2 separate regions of the Homo sapiens genome follow, and region 2 is linked to region 1. Evidence: fine-mapped expression QTL. A gene starts in region 1. The other region holds a variant in brackets. All regions are shown on one strand. Distances are from middle to middle. Region 1 holds the start of GPRASP3 (G protein-coupled receptor associated sorting protein family member 3). Region 2 overlaps ARMCX5-GPRASP2 (ARMCX5-GPRASP2 readthrough).

Region 1 (2,923 bases):
CTTCATCTGGCTTTTGATTTATATCCTTTATAATGAACCAGTAATAGGAAGTAGTGTTTCCCTGAGTTCTGTGGGCCCTTATAGCAAATTATTGAACCTGAGGAGGGGGTTGTGGGAACTTCCAACTAGTAGCTAAGTCAGACAGAAGTGTGGGTGACATGGAGATCCATTACTTGTGACTGTTGTCTGAAGTGAGGGAGGGCAGTCTTATGGGAATGAGCCCTTAACCAGAGAGGTCTGCACTAACTCTGGGTAGTATCAGAATTGAATTAAATTGTAGAATACCTAGCTGATGTCCTCAAAGAATAAGAGAATTGCTTGGTGTGAAAAATCCACACATTCTGTGCCAGAAGTATTGTGGGTAGAGGAACCATTTTCTTTCACTTGGTACCCAGTGGGTGCATGGGGTAGGGGGAAAGGAGGATACTCGATGTGAAAGAGGACAAGGACTTACCATGGGGCTGCTACCTAGGATGGGACCAAAGAAACACATCCTAAGGAATGAGCAGAGATCACAACACAAGAGAGCAAAGGGTATGCAGAGGGAAACTTAGGAGACTATCCATGAAGCAGTTTCTGTAGGTGGTCCCCAGAAAGACCCTCCTCTGAGGCCCAAGACAGCAGGGAGAGAGAGCTCACACGGAGTAGCAACCCACTTTGTGTCCCTCAATGGGAATGAGATCCTGCTGCATGGGGCTGAGATCCAGGAATCCCCTTGGGGGTCGAGAAGCTTGGAGTATCCTAATGAGAAATCCTAGGTGAAGGGCCCACAGCATCTAGGTTTCCTCCCCTCGAGTCTATGTCTCCTCCTCCTTTTCCTAGAACTGCCGGGATTGAGGTTCATTCCTCTCTTGCATCCCCAGCCAGCTGGAGCCTTGGAGCAAAAGGCAGATGTATGTGTTCTCTTCTGCCCTCCTCCACCCTCCGCCAGTTTTGAGCTGGTATCAGCCATCCCCACTGCCTGAATACTGCCAGTAAGAAGACAGAGAGTAGAATGAGTGCGGACGCATAGCTCACGGTTCCCATCCCCACCCCTGCCTTTCCTGATCCAGCACCACAGGTGTTCACGAATTGTCACTTCACCATTTCCCCGCTCTGGGCTCCCCTGAAGCCAACTCCATCCATATGCCCACCTCCCCCACCCACACATACAAACACAGGGCACTGGGCTGGGAGCCTTGGGATGAGGGGTCAAGGGTGTTCAAAAGGCAGGAGGGAGCAGGCGGATCTGAGGCATTACCTGCACCCGCATCTAGTCTCAGTCACCACCTCTCAGGGATGCCATCTGCCGTCCTTGCACCCACCTCCTCCAACAGCAACCGCTGCTCCTCTCCACGAACGCGTCGGGCAGGTAGACTCTCTGCTTCTTGAGCTCCTGGACAAAAGACAGACGGGCTAAGACGCTCCCGGTTGGCTGACGGATTGTTTCCTTTACCAACAAATGCTGTAGTTCCAGTCGCCTGAGAAATTAGTTTTCAGGCTGATGCAGCATGGAAAGACACCTACCTACCTTAACATCCCGCCGTTCCTCCCACGTTCTGCTCTGCGGAGCACAGGTGTCGTCCGCCTCTCAGGTCTTTTCTGGATGCAAGAAAACACTCCTCTCGGCAGGCCTAATGCAGAGCCTGGTCACATGACCCACCGTCAGCCCCACGTGACTGCGCAGTCAGCTTGTTCGCCGCAGTCCTGTACCATGGATGACAGTCTTCTGCCTCTGGGGTGCTTGCTAGAAGATCCTGAAGCTCCTTGGCCAGACAGCTGGAAGGAAGGCTGGCCTTTGCTCTGGAGGACCACTCGGCTGGCGAGGAACATTCGATGAGGATTTGGGAAATGAAGTGATTTTTAATATTTTGTATACGACTCAAGCGACATACTAAAACACACACAGATCTGTCTTGAAAAATGCTGGTAAGCAAAACAAACATTCAAACTCCAATTTGCACCACCAGGATAATCCCTGTTAAAACTTATGGCTTGCGATGGGAGGCAAAACTGCCACTTCCATATTACCTTACCAAACTAGGATCAGGTGGGGAAAAAAAGCATGTTGCACTGTCAGAAAAATTATACCAAACTTAGATAAAGTCACCTTCAGTTACTGGATGTCATTTCAGGGCAGTGCAGGATGTCTATTGATTTACCTATTTTTCAACTCTGTAGACACTGATGTTAACATGTAGATATTTTATTCAATAAATATGTAAATGATTTATGTCCAGTGCAATAGAAAACCTTAAATGTTACAATTTATTGCCCTGTAAGATATTAACCCGTTTTATATTTAACCTGGCAGTGTTATTCTAACATTTATTAATTTCCTATGTGTTTATGAAATTCAATGTTTTGTTTATATCTTCATATTGTGTATATTGTATATACACATATACCCTTCAACTGTTTTCTTAATCCTAGCAGTTGTTGATTGTGTTGAAAAATCTTTCACATATTCTTTTTACATTTACATGAATTGTAATTTTACCTTTGAAAATTTAGAACATTCTCAGACAAATAAATGTTATGTCTAAAAATAATAAAACATTGGATATTTCTCGTACGTCTGAATTTCCTCTCCAAACCAACATATAGCCCTGTCTTCCAATTCTCCTGACTGAAGGTATTGTGTGGTCATTTTTTAAATTATCGTGGCAAAATACACATAACATAAAATTTAACATTTTAACCATTTTAAAGTATACAACCCAGTACATTATCAATGTTGTACAACCATCACCACTATCTAGCTCCAGAACTTTGTTGTCACCTCAAAAGGAAATGTTATGTTTTTTACGGTAATAATTATGTGAAAAAGGTGCCATTTTTGTACCATGAACAGACTAATATTAAACTTAACACCCTTGGTAATTTTTTTTTTTTTTGAGACGGAGTTCTGCTCTGTCACCCAGGCTGTAGTGCAGTGGTGCGA
Region 2 (2,923 bases), 22 kb after region 1:
TAATCTTACTGGGTGAAATAGGGCAAGAACTATAACTGGGCTGACACAAATAAAAAATACACGAGTGAAATGTATCATTTAGTACTAGAAATTTTCCACAGAGAAGTTCCTTACAGAATTGTTTATAGTAGGAAAAAACAGATATAACCTAAATATATGAGTATAGGGGATTCGTTAATTTATGACAAACTCATGAGATGGAATAGATGTGTTAATTAGCTTGATTTAGTCACTCCACAATGTATCTATATATCAAAGCATCATGTTGGACATCATACATATATACAATTTTTATTTCTCAATGAATAAAAGAATATTTTTTAAAAATGAAACTGTCTGTTTCAGAAACACCTTGTCAGTACTGGGAATTATCCAACTTTTATTTTTGTTCATATGAAAGGTAAAAAATGGAATACTATTATTTTAATGTGTTCTACAATTGTGAGGGAGCCTATCAATAACGATGTGCTACATTACATTGCCGTAACAAATGGTCCCCAAATCTGGGCAACTTAAAATAACCAAAATACCCAGAACTTTGGGAGGCTAAGGTAGGCAAATAGCTTGTGGCCAGGAGTTTGAGACCAGCCTGGCCAAAATGGCTAAACCCCATCTCTACTAAAAACACAAAAATTAGCCAGGAATGGTGGCGCACAGCTATAATCCCAGCTACTCGAGTGGCTGAGGCAAGAGAATCACTTGAACCCAGGATGTAGAGGTTGCAGTAAACCAAGATTGCGCCACTACATTCCAGCCTGGACAACATAGTGAGACTCTGTCTCAAAAAAAAATCACAAAAATATATTTGTTGTTCATATTACATGTCTAACACGTCTGTTGGGAGCTTTACTCATGAGGATTAAACGCAACAGTTATGATCTGAAACATTGCTGGCTACCATGACGTAGGAAAAGACCGATCATGACAAATCTCACAGCGGCTCTTAAAAGTTTCCTGCCAGAACTGACAAAAATCTTTTTGAATATTGTATTGACCGAAGCAACTTACATGGCCATTGTTGTGCTCAAAGGTGTAGGGAAGTGCAAGGCTAAGAGTCTGAAAATTGGACTGCAGGAAATCTTGGTTAACAATAGTAATAATTAACAAAAGTCCCAAATCTATTTGTTGAGTACTACAAACCTTTTTTCTTTCCTGTGAACTAATTATTTACTTACTCAGCTTTCCATTGGGATATTCACTCCATTGATTTATATTATGTCTTTGTTAACTCACAAAATGAGCCTGTAGATTGCCATATCTGTTGTAACTAGTGTTTCCAGTATATGCTGTTTTTTGACTTGTTTATAATATTTTATTTTATTGTAATATTTATTATTTATTTTATTATTTTTTATTTATTTATTTTTT[C/T]GAGACAGAGTCTCGCTTTGTCACCCAGGCTGGAGTGCAGTGGCACAATCTCAGTTCACTGCAAGTTCCGCCTCCCGGGTTCACGCCATTCTCCTGCCTCAGCCTCCTGAGTAGCTAGGAATACAGGTGCCCGCCACCGTGCCCAGCTAATTTTTTTGTATTTTTAGTAGAGATGGGGTTTCACCGTGTTAGCCAGGATGGTCTCGATCTCCTGACCTCGTGATCTGCCCGCCTCAGCCTCCCAAAGTGCTGGGATTACAAGCGTGAGCCACTGTGCCCAGCCTGTTTAAAATACTTTAAAACAGCTTTATTAAAATACAATTCATATACCATGCAATTCACCAATTCAAAATGTACAATTCAAAGACTTTAATACACTTAGAGTTGTGCATTCATCACCAAAATTAATTTTGTAACATTTTTAAGCCCAAGAAGATACTCTCTGTCCCTTAGTTGTCAGATTGCATTGCCCTAACCCCCAAACCAGAGGCAACAATTCATCTGTCTCTATAAATTTGTCTATTTTGGATTTTTCATATAAAAGGAATCATTTAATATGTAGTTGTTGTGATTTTTATTGTTATGATTTTTTTTCTAATTTGGTCTTGAGGTCTCTGTCTGGAGAGTGGCTATAAATTCCAGCCCTGCGCTGAATGGGGCTCTAAGGAAGGTGGTCTTCAATGTTTACAGTGTGCTTTTCACAGGATACTTCGTCCTGGCAGACAGCCTAATGCCTAAGTGTCCAACCTATGACCAGGTGTCCCTCTCACTGAAAACTTGTTTATACTGGCAGATACCCTTGTGGCTCTTGTTTGACCTGTGTCCAGTTTATCCCTGCTAAGACAGCCACTTGCAAGGAGAGCCCTGACCAGGAGGATAGTTAGGTTTGGTTGTGTAAGTCAAATGAGGCACAGAGAAGACAGCACAACGAAACACATGAAATGCAAAATATTTTTATTACTCAGATCTACAAGAGAAGAGGGTTGCCCACAAGGGCTGATGAGAAGTCTGAAGACAGCAGGATGCGTAACCAATGGGTGTTGAGTGGGACAGACCTGCAGGCTGGGCCTTTATTGTGATCAAAGCCATTACCCAAACATGTTTCCTATGAGGAGTTCAAACTGGTGAGTTTGAAGCAAGTAGGGATGAGTTCCAGGAGGTCACACCATCACTGAGAGGTGATCACTGTGGCATATTTGCATTGTCCATGTTGGGTATGAGGGTCAGTGGGGCAAGTCAAGTAGGTTATATCTCTCTGTCCGAGAGGGTGGTGGATATCTGTTGTGTAAGGCAGATATCTGGATTGACCACATTGAAAAAGTGGGAGGAAGTGGAGAATTAGGTGATTAGGCCCTGCCTTTGGTATGAGAAAGTTAGAAGGTTAACCCTATATCTAGGGTGGATGCCAGAGCAACATGAAATTATAGGAATTGACTACAATGGTTCTTTGTGACTTCTTTCACTTAGCATAAGGCTCTTCCCTGCTGTAGCATTTATTAGTACTTCATTGCTTCTTACTGCAGAAAATTATTCCATTGTATGAATATAACACATT

Evidence for each region. PIP is the estimated chance that this variant, and not a neighbour inherited with it, causes the effect. A credible set is the group of variants that fine-mapping cannot tell apart.
Region 2: its variant is the best candidate, but not a certain one, in a credible set for the expression of GPRASP3 in lung (TOPMed, PIP 0.53).

The regions. Positions count from the first base shown.
Region 1 is chrX:102,719,409-102,722,331 of GRCh38, reverse strand. It overlaps GPRASP3 (G protein-coupled receptor associated sorting protein family member 3), which reads right to left and starts at 1,589. Exons shown (of 4, transcript NM_001142524.2): 1 at 1,507-1,589; 2 at 1,241-1,375. ARMCX5-GPRASP2 (ARMCX5-GPRASP2 readthrough) reads right to left here. Exons shown (of 19, transcript NR_146584.3): 7 at 1,511-1,798; 8 at 1,241-1,375. RefSeq lists an enhancer at 1,723-1,782.
Region 2 is chrX:102,697,846-102,700,768 of GRCh38, reverse strand. All of the region lies in intron 4 of ARMCX5-GPRASP2 (ARMCX5-GPRASP2 readthrough), which reads right to left. Among named protein-coding and RNA genes, the nearest start is that of GPRASP2, 13 kb to the left of the region's middle. The variant C/T (reference allele first, on the strand shown) is at 1,369.